Linked DNA regions of Homo sapiens: region 2 is linked to region 1. A link means that fine-mapping ties the variant in region 1 to the expression of a gene that starts in the linked region. Tissue or cell type: whole blood. Region 1 holds a variant in brackets; the other region holds the start of a gene. All regions are shown on one strand. Distances are from middle to middle.

What was found. PIP is the estimated chance that this variant, and not a neighbour inherited with it, causes the effect.
Region 2: it holds the start of CCDC24, and the variant in region 1 is fine-mapped to the expression of CCDC24 in whole blood (INTERVAL, PIP above 0.99).

The regions. Positions count from the first base shown.
Region 1 is chr1:43,941,619-43,947,270 of GRCh38, reverse strand. LOC101929609 (a long non-coding RNA gene) reads left to right here and starts at 672. Exons shown (of 2, transcript NR_188535.1): 1 at 672-790; 2 at 2,475-2,916. IPO13 (importin 13) reads right to left here and starts at 321. Exons shown (of 20, transcript NM_014652.4): 1 at 1-321. RefSeq lists a silencer at 276-525. The variant T/C (reference allele first, on the strand shown) is at 3,000.
Region 2 is chr1:43,989,553-43,994,552 of GRCh38, reverse strand. CCDC24 (coiled-coil domain containing 24) reads right to left here and starts at 2,954. Exons shown (of 9, transcript NM_152499.4): 1 at 2,807-2,954; 2 at 2,549-2,706; 3 at 2,166-2,341; 4 at 1,914-2,030; 5 at 589-666. The coding sequence starts at 2,674. B4GALT2 (beta-1,4-galactosyltransferase 2) reads right to left here. Exons shown (of 7, transcript NM_003780.5): 7 at 3,385-4,255. The coding sequence ends at 4,105. RefSeq lists silencers at 2,501-2,550, 2,691-2,800.

The DNA of each region.
Region 1 (5,652 bases):
GCGGGGGAAACCGAGTCCCTGGCTCTTGAGGGGTCACAGGGTCGATGGCCTGTACCCACAACACCCCCGCCTGGGTGAGCTCTCGGCTGCTATGAACAGGTCATGGGGCTGGAGGGTCACGGGAGAGAGAGAGCCCTTCGTGGTTACGGAGGCGTCCAACGAAGCGCGGAGATGCAGCTCCGCTAGTCTAGGGCGAAGAGTCCGTGGAGTTGAGGGGCTGTGGCAGGTCCCTTCCGTTCGGCCTGGCCCGCGCTGTGCTCAACGCCCGGCTACAGCCCCGCTACAGCCGCTGCCTCCGCCCCAGTGACTGACAAGACAAGCCAGGCCGGCCGGGACGGGGCAGGGACCTCGGCAAGGCGCGGGCTGCCCCGAGCGCCTGTCCCCGGCACCTCCAACTCAGGCCCCCACTCCTGCCAGTTCTGGCTCGGCACGGCCCGGTACAGGCCGGCACGGCCCAGCGGAACTGCGCGGAAACTCATTCCGGGTCCTTAGCCCTGTCCTCGCGCCAGCTCGCACTCCCCTGAGCAGGCGGTGGAGCGGCTCGCCGCCCCAGGCCGCGGCCGAGTCTAGGCCCCGCCGCTGTTCACCCTGGGAAATGTAGTCCGTGTTGCGCCTAGCCGGAAGGCGGCGCCCTGCGGAGGAGGCCGGGAGCACGTGGGTTGGGGACCTGCAGAGCCCCGCCTGTCCTCGGCCTACCGCGGCGAGCAGGCATTCCGGGTCAGACCGGCGCGGGGCGCTGCGGCCCAACTCCTTAGTAGGACGACGTGACTCGAGGGGCCGGAGGACGGAGGTGGGAGCCCGGGCTAGAGGGTGGAGGCTGGGGAGGTTGCCTGGTCACTCTGGCGCTCCGCTGCCGGGGGCATCCTCCGGCCCAGCAAAGGTGCAGCCTGGGAAGAAGGCGTCAGCACCACCCAGAGAAGAGGAGAGGGGACTTGGCACGCCTCAGGAAGGAAAAAAGGAAGGCTCTCGGGACCACCCAATAAGCAACCGGGAAACCACATACCATGGACAGTGCTCGGGGAATTTCGTAAGGTTTTTGGAAGTAACTTTATGTGTAACTAGAGTAAGAGTAGCTTACATTTAAGTGCTAGGAGCAGGACTTTGCTTACCTTAGGTTCAGTTTTCTTAATAGCTCTGAGGTGGATATTTTTATTCATCATTTTCAGATGAGATGAGGAAATCGAGCTTGGGGAAAGTTAGGCTTATCTTGCCCCTGGCACACAGACAGGGTGGCAGACCATGCCATAGATCTGGTCTGCCACAGGCCCCGGTAGTTCCTGCCTGTCACCCCTCCAGTTGTATTTTATTGTTTATTAACTCCTGCCAGCTACCCTAGCAGGGAAGAGGAAAAAATTAAAAGTGCAAAGAGCTCCGTAGTTTTGTTCAAATGGAGGAAGCTGGCATTGGAAGCTGGCATTGGCAGCAGCTGCTGAGGCCTGAGAAGGTCCATGAAGGCTTCCCTGAGAAGAGAAACTTGATCTGAGCTTGAAGAATAGAGAGCCTGGGAAGGAGAGGGGCCCATTTAGCTGGTAAGCAAAATCCAGTAGGACTCTAAGTCATTCAGCAAGTCTTCATCAATAAAGAATAGCAAGTAGGCCGGGCGCGGTGGCTCACGCCTGTAATCCCAGCACTATGGGAGGCTGAGGCGGGCGGATCACGAGGTCAGGAGATCGAGACCATCCTGGCTAACACGGTGAAACCCCGTCTCTACTAAAAATACAAAAAATTAGCCGGGCATGGTGGCAGGCACCTGTAGTCCCAGCTATTCGGGAGGCTGAGGCAGGAGAATGGCTTGAACACGGGAGGTGGAGCTTGCAGTGAGCTGAGATCACGCCACTGCACTCCAGCCTGGGCGACAGAGTGAGACTCCGTCTAAAAAAAAAAAAGAAAAGAAAAGAAAGAATAGTAAGTAATTTATATTCATTTTAAGAGAATATATGTGGGGTGGGGAAGGGGAAGGGTATGAGTAACAGAGATGAGGTTGGAAAGACAAGTTGGTGGCAATAGATTCTTGTAGGAGTTTGGACATTATCCTAAGTGCAATATGAAACCATGATGGGGTTTCAAGTGAGCAATGATGATTACATTTGCATTTTAGAAAAATCTGCAACATGAAAGACAAATTGAAGGAAGAAAGAGAGGCAGGAGACATTTGGAAGGAGGAAATAGAAAGCCAAAATAAAGTAACTGATTCCAGGCCTGTGCCTAGGGTGTGAAATACCTTGGGCCTGGTGCTGGCTGGCGGTTTCACTGGTGGAGGTGGTGGTGGGCAGGGGAGATGGTGTTGGGAGTGGGGTTTAAATGCACAAATTCTGGACTTAGTCCTGAGTTCAAAACCTGTTTATGCCTCTTTCTAGCAATGAGACCTTAGCTTCTTCTGAAACTCATTTTAGTTAAGGGGTTTTAGGGGTGGGGGGCTCAGCCCAGAGACCACAACTTAGTCAGTATGTGTTTTCTTCCTGCTTCCCATCCAGGGCTCCTCCTCATCCCTGGAGGTTCCAGGGATCTGGCAGAGAAAGAAGCCCAGTCTCACAGCAATGACTCCTGAACATCCTTTGCAAACACTATTTAGGACAGATGGACTGAAGTAGGCCCTGGGGAGAGTTGGGGGCATTTCCGGAGGCCAGACCAAAGGTGATCTCCAGGAGATTTGGATGTTAGTGCAGGATAGCTCAGAGCCAAGTGGCAGATAAGTCTTTGGGAGCCAGAAGGGCTCTTTCTTCTCTAAGGAACAAGTGTAGACCTATAGGGGCAAGAACCTGTGGCAACCCTGGGAGAGGTCTGCAGATTCAGGAGGGAACATCCCAAAACTCAGCAGAGGAGGAGAGGGAGCTTTTGTTGGTCACCTGGAACCACTACCAATCCATGTTCATGTCAAATTAAATGATCACTTTGAAGTTTTTCAGCCTACCAAAATCATGTGAATTTGGTCTGCAAAACCAGACGACTGCCTGCTTGCAGTTAAGAATTCTCAGCGGGAGGCCGGGCGCAGTGGCTCA[T/C]GCCACCAGCACTTTGGGAGGCTGAGGTGGGTGGATCACGAGGTCAGGAGTTCGAGACCAGCCTGGCTAACACGGTGAAACCCTGTCTCTACTAAAAATACAAAAGTTAGCCTGGTGTGGTGGCGGGCACCTGTAGTCCCGGCTACTTGGGAAGCTGAGGCAGGAGAATCTCTTGGACCTGGAAGGTGGAGGTTGCAGTGAGCTGAGATCGCGCCATTGCACTCCAGCCTGGGCAACAGAGCGAGACTCTGTCTCAAAAAAAAAAAAAAAAGAAGAAGAAGAAAAAAAAGAATTCTCAGGGGGAGATTATTCCCCTTTCTTAGTACCAAGGTTGGATGTAGGCAGTTTTCTTTGTAGTCCCCTGGTTTGAGGGAGAGAGGTTAGGTCAGACAGGGGCAGGTTTCTTTCTAATTCACCTTCACAGTGTAGGCATACACTGGCCTTTGAGGTCCTGGCCTTATGGAGAAGTTTCTAAATAGACTCCCCATGGTGAGGGGGCCCTGGGCTTTGTCTTTCTCATAAGCCCAGAGACCCCTTGAAAACCAATGATCAGGTTCTCTGGGTTCGGCAACTGCCCTCAAGATGAAAGCCAATGACAGAGCTTTGCTTACCTTTGTAGCTTCTTGCTTTCATTTACTTTTTTGGCCTCAGTGTGTTTCTTACATTTTTGCTAGCTTATGGATGCATTTAATTTTAAAGATAGATAGAGTCTAGTATTTAAAGTTGTTTTCAGGAGGAAGTTTAGCCCAAGTCCTTAGGCCACCATGTTGCAAGAAAACCTAACGGGCAGTTTTCGGTTCTGATGCAGCTTGATTTTTGTGCTGCATCTGGCCCTATTGACCAGTCCCTCAGCTCTTCTGTTTGGTTTTGTTTTTCCCGACACTCTGACTACTCCTTTTTGGTTTCCTTCACTGGCCCATCCCTGTTCCTCCACCTGTTCCTTAAATGTTGGTCCTCCTTAGTCTCCGCTTCTTGTCTTATGCCTCATTATCTCACCACTCCCCTGGCTTCAAGCTGTGACTCCTTGGATTTCTCCAGCCCAGACTGTCCTGGGTTTCAAACCTGCATATTTAGCTGCCTCCTGGCCCTCTGAAGTTGCCACAGGCACCCAAAGTTGAACATGTACAAAACTGAACTCACATTTTCCCCACATCTTACCCCTATCACATGCTAAAATACTACATCCCCTGTGTTCTGTACCAGTCCCCCAAGCTAGACACCTGGAAACCATCTCTCATCCAGCCCTCACCTCTCTTATTGTCCCTCACATCTCTTCTGTCCTTGCACATTTGCTTCTGCCCTAACTCAAGGTACCTGTGCTTGTTGCCTGAACGGCTCTAACTATGGCAGCTCTAGCTGGCACCCACCTTGCCTCTTCCATCCATACTAGACACAGTAGCAAGTGATCCATCTGAAACACATCTCTAACCAAGCCCACTTAAAACCCTTTAGTGGCTCCTTTCAGAGCGAAGGCTGAGCTTCTCGGTATAACATTCAAAGCCCTTTGTGACCTCTCCAGTCTTTTGTCTTGATGAGGACCCTCCCCAAGTCCACCTGAAGTTGCTGGCAATCCTGGGAGCGCACCAGGCTGTTTCACACTTCCCTGTCTTTGTTCATGCTACTTCCTCTGTTGAGAAGGCTCTGTGTCATTCTGGATGCCATCAGGAGAGAGACATCACACAGTCAGCAGGCAGGGAAAGTTCAACATAAGCATTTTGAAGTGTAACAGGGAATTGAAGCTGTGATGAACTGGCTAGTAAGAAGTAAATAAATAAATAAATAAACAAATAAAAATCTAAAGAATATAGGACTAGCAGAGTCTTCAGGCTGAGATGGAGAGCCCAAGGAAGAGGCCCTCACCTCTCCACTCCATTCCTGTCCAGGGCTGAGAACCACACCGTGCAGGACAGGACATGGCCACAATGAACAGTGTACATTTAGAAGTGAGAGGAAATAAAGGCAATCAGCAATAACCAGTTCGGGTTCCATGCCTCTCATCCACCCTATAATCCACCCTGTGCAAACAAACTCATTTTTCAAGACTCAGTTCAAATACCACCTTTTCCACAAAGACTTTTCCTCTTCTGCGTCTATCCAGGAAAAAACTGATTCCTCTTCCTTTGTGATTGTAGAATCTGCCCCCTCCTTGACACACATACCTATAACCTCAGTCATACTTCTACTGGGGTACTTGTTTACCCCTACCTAGGGTTGCCAGAAAAAAATCAGGACACTTATTTATTTTTTTTTTTTTTGAGATGGAGTCTTGCTCTGTCACCCAGGCTAGAGTTCAGTGTCACGGCTCACTGCAACCTCTGCCTCCCAGGTTCAAGCAATTCTTCTGCCTCCTGAGTAACTGGGACTACAGGTGTGCACCACCATCCCCGGCTAATTTTGTATTTTTAGTAGAGACAGGGTTTCACCATATTGGCCAGGCTGGTCTCAAACTCTTGACCTCGTGATCCGCCCACCTCGGCCTCCCAAAGTGCTGGGATTACAGGCATGAGCCACCGCACCTGGCCATCTATTTAATTTTGAATATGAGATAAACAACAATTTTTTTTTTTTTGAGATGGAGTCTCACTCTGTCGCCTAGGCTGGAGTGCAGTGGCACGATCTCAGCTCACTGCAAGCTCTGCCTCCCAGGTTCACA
Region 2 (5,000 bases), 48 kb before region 1:
AGGAGAATGGTGTGAACCCGGGAGGTGGAGCTTGCAGTGAGCCAAGATCACGCCACTGCACTCCAGCCTGGGCGCCAGAACAAGACTCCATCTCAAAAAAAAAAAAAAAAGAAAGAAAGAAAGAAAGAAACAGGGTCTTGCTCTGCCACCCATCATGACTCACTGTAGCCTTACCTTCCAGGGCTCAATCAATCCCTTCTCACCTCAGCCTCCCAAGTAACTGGTACAGGCGTGCACCACCACGCCCAGCTAATTTTTGTATTTGTTTTGGTAGAGATGGGGTTTTCCCATGTTGGCCAAGCTGGTTTCGAATTCCTGGGCCCAAATGACCCTCTTGCCTCGGCCTCCCAAATTGCTGGGATTATAGGCATGCACCATCATGCTCGGCCGTGGCATCTGTACTTGGCTGCTTCCTGAAAGCAACCTCACTAGCTCTATAGCAGCCAGCTCTTTCCACCTCTCAGCCTTACGCACATGGGCCTCCCCGCCAAGTATACTACCCACCTCCTGTCTCACAATCCCAGCACCTCAAGATCCATCCTTGTCTCCACCCCTGCCTATACACATGCAGGTGCCCCTGGGCCTCACCTCAGGTGTCTGGCCACCTGGTCAATGTTGGACACGTTCAGTTGGTCCTTGATGATGCTGAGATCTCTGTGACCGCTGCTGGCAATGAAGTCACTATCACTCTCCGCATGTTGCTCACCCCAGGCCTTCAGGACCCAAATATCACTTCTAGGCAACTGTTTCTTTTCTCACAAAGGCAATATAATATAGTGCAAAGAGTAAGAGTTTGGGAGCCTAGGTTTGCAAATGAGCTCTGCCACCCTTCATTGTGTGTGACTTCAGGCAAATCACTTATCGCTTCTGAGCTTTAGTTTCTTTTCCTTTTTTTTTTTTTTTTTTGAGACAAGATTGTGCTCTGTTGCCCAGGCTGGAGTGCAGTAGCACCATCTTGGCTCACTGCAGCCTTGACATCCCGGGCTCAAGTGCTCTTCCCACATCAGCCTCCTGAGTAGCTGGGACTACAGGTGCGTGCCACCACGCCTGTTCAATTTTTTTGCACAGATGGGGTCTCACTATGTTGCCCAGGCTTCTTTTTTTTTTTTCTTAGAGACAGGGTCTTTGTCACCCAGGTTGGAGTGCACAGGTGCAATCATAGCTCACTGCAGCCCCGAATTCCTGAGCTCAAGCAATTATCCCACCTCAGCCTCCCAAGTAGCTGGGAATACAGGCATGCGCCACCTCACCTGACTATTTTTTTTTTCACTTTTTGTAAAGATGGGGTCTCCCTGTATTGCCCAGGCTGATCTCAAACTCCTGGCCTCAAGCCATCCTCCCGCCTCAGCCTCCCAAAGTGCTGGGATTACAGGCATGAGCCACTATGCCCGGCCTTTAATTTCCTCTTGTGCAAAATGGAGATTTTGCCCACCTCCTCAGGCTGTGTGAGGATTAGAATAAGAAGTTGCTGCCATCCACTTATGAATATTTTATCTCATTCAGTCCCAGCTGTAAATACCATTTGTGACCATCCTCTTCAGCTCTCCCTGCCTCCCTAGCCCAGCCCTCACTCCTGTTCTCTAGGCCAGAGGAACAACCGCCTGCTGGACATGGCTTCCTTTCTTCCCTCTTCCTACAAAGCTCTTCTCTTTCATCTCCCTGAAAACTGCTCCTCATACTACAACACGCAGATCAAACCACTTTCTCCAGGAAGCTTTGCCTGTCCCCAGGCTAGGCAGGTGTTTCCTCTGGGTTTCAGTAGCCCTCATGGGCTGATAATCTCTATCACAAGTGGCGGTGGAAGTGCCCAGCCCGTGACTGGAATCTCCTGCATGGAGCCAGGTGCAACCCACCAGTGGGCTAGGGCCCTCTGCCAAGCAGGGACAGATCCCTCTCTCCTACCATCACCTTACCTGGGCCCACCACCTCTCATCTGGAATATCTCCTGTTCTGGCAAATCACACCTGGGCTCCTCCAAGGCAAAGTGCAGGACCCTGGGGCTATACTGGACCCAAGCTTGGGCCTGGTCCCTGCAGAAGGTGCACAGGAAGGAAGCTGAGAGGCTCCTTTCTGGAAACCACAGAAAAGGCAACCCTGGCTCCTTGTTAGGGGCAGCGCTAGCCCACCTGGTATCTAGGGAAAGGGCCCAGGCCTGAGGCTCCCACCTGCCCTCACAGATGGCTTTGTGGCGGAGACCCTGGAGCAACTGCCGGAGCTCCTGGCGCAAGAGGTCCTTTAGGAGAGGCGGTGGTGCCAGAAGAGAAGAGGGGTCAGAGATGGGGCGGGAGCTGGGGGCTTGAGAGGATCGAGCCTCTTGGAGCAGTGCCCGTAACATCGCCACCTGCAAGGAGAGCTGGGATACCTTGCGACTGGGGAGGGGAGTGTCCGGAATGGTGGGGGCTGGGGGAGTGAGGGAGAGGGCGGAGTCAAAGGGGAGACCAGGATAGGATCTCGGGAGTTACCCGGCAGGGCCAGGGACCCGCAGAGGTGGGAAATCACCCGAGTCGTGGGGCAGGCCAGGGGCGTGGCCCACCTTCCCTCTCCCCACCTCCGCCCGCAGCTCCAGGCTCAGGTCCACCGCCGCCTCCCCCAGAATCCTCTTCACTTCGCGTCGCTCCCGGAGCGGAACGTGCTCCTCCACCAGCTCCCACAGCGAGGGGGAGTGCCGGAGCATGACCCACCGACGCCGCCGTCCCCGGCTCGGACCTACGGGCCGCAGGTCAGAGTGCGGGAGGTACCGCGGGCCCGCCGGCAACGCTCACCAAACCCCGCCCCTCTATGGGCCCCGCCCTCTCCCAAGCCCCACCCGTGCTCTGCCGCTGGTCCCCTCGGCTGGGATTGCCCGTTCCGGAACTGCCAGTCCTTGGCGCTCTCTTCTGCCCGGCTTTTGGCCGACTCGGATGCCGGGGGCCCAGAAACCAGGCAGTGGGAACCAGGGCCCTAGCCCCACCTCTTCCGCGTGGCCATCACCCGGGAAACCACGCCGCGACTCTAGGGCCCCGCCCCCTCCCGTGTTTGGTCCGGCGGGCGGCGCGTGCCGGCTGGGAGTTCAGACTCACCTCGGCGCTCCACCGAGCCCTGACCCAAGCACTTTGGGCTCGGCCCTGGGCACCTTTAGGCCTCAGGGAACGTGTTAAGACCTGAGAAATCTGGGTCCACGGGTTTATTACTTCGTCGCCTCCACTGTCCCGGAAGCAGTGCAAGGACAAACTTCCCCTTAAGGCCAGTGAAAGCCTAGGGAGTGGCAGCGCTTGGAGAACCAGGATGGCCCGGGTCAGGTTTACTTGTTGGGCCAGGTTCCCCAAGTGCCCTTCCACCACAACACACTCAGGGTAACCACGTTCAGGGACCCGACCCCCACCCCCAAACAGACAAGGGAGCTGCTCCATTCACGTTTTTTACTAAAGCACCCACACAAGTTTCTGTGCAATGTACAAACACAAGCCGGCCCTGGGGCTCCTGCCTCCTCTCTCAGACAGGGAGGCGGGAACCAGACTTACTGATCCAAGCCCCACCTGCCTCCCATGCAAAGGCCAACCCCAAGATCCCAGGCAGCGACACAGCATCCCCTCTGGTCCCCTCCTGGGGCTGCTCCTCAGCAGGGGGCGCACCAAAGCTTGCCCCCTACAATGTTGAATGAAAAAGGTTTCCCCTCCCCTGGGAGCAAGGGGGTTCCCAAGAGCTGAGAATTCCCCCTGGAAGAGACACTGCCCCCTAGACATACCTCCCACCCTTCCAGGCCCTAGGGGACTCAAGGGGGGGAAACTGAGGCACAGAGAGGTGGAGTGACCTAGCCCAGGCCACTCTGCGAGGCAGTGCAGGGGCTGGCCCGACCCTGACAGTGACTGGGGCTGGGCTAGGGGGAGGGGGTCGGGAAGGAGGGTTGACTCCAAAGAGGGCCACACTTGAAGAGCCTGCCCAGGCAGGAGGCCCCCCAAAGTGGGTTCTGAAACTTCCAGGTGTAGCTAGGGGGCCTAGTGAAGACCCTTGGAAAACAGAGCCCAGTCTCAGTCCTGGAGGTCCTCCACAGAGCAGCTGCCAGCCAGGCTGTGGTCAGTCCTCTGGCAGGCAATCTTCGGCACCGAGAGCCTCTGTCCATTAGTGTCAGCCCCGAGGGGGCCACGACGGAGGCCGCCCAATGTCCACTGTGATATTGGTGAAGAGTGGTTGCCGAGACACCTCCAAGACCTGGTACCGCACTGACCCAATGCCGTCCCGCTTCATGGTCAGCTTCGTGTTTTGAATCTTGGTAAACCTAGATAGGATGGAAATGGTCCACATCAGGGCTAACAACTGTAAACTAAAAATAAAATCCTACACCCCCCAACCAACTAAATGGACCCCCTTTTGGCCAAGGGGACCCCAGGGAACCTTAAAAACAGGGTTTCCAGCTATGATGGGAAGGGACGTCAAACATGCCATGTTATGCCCACGCCCTTTTGCAGCTTAGACACAACAAATGACCAGCATTAACGTCAAAGCAGAGATCACAAGACTGACAGAATGCATTGTTTGTGTCAATAAGATACCTAATTATAAATAGGATCTAAGGCCATGCCAGGCAAGGGTTAAGTCTTGCACCTCTGCACTTAAAGAAGAGACTATGCTCTAACTGCCGCGAGGATTTTCTTTTTCTGTAGCAGCTAAACAAGTACAGGACTTGAGATAACCAATATTAAAACAATTTGTATAATGTGGTAATATAAATAATAGAAAAAAATTTGCAGCTCACCCACTGCCAGATGCTGACCCCTACGCCCCTGTTCCACAAGCCATAATTATAGCTTTGGTGGGACAAGAGACTGATCTCAGTAACTTTCTCCTGATAAGACCATCGGCCATGGACTGGTTCTAGCCAGCTTACAGAGGCTGCGCACTTGAGTGCTTTTGTCTTTTTGACGTATGGGGCCTAACTGCGATATATTTAAATATTAAGTCTCCACCCCAAGGTGAACATGGATGGTATATAACATGCATGTTTGTTCGATATGCATATGTCA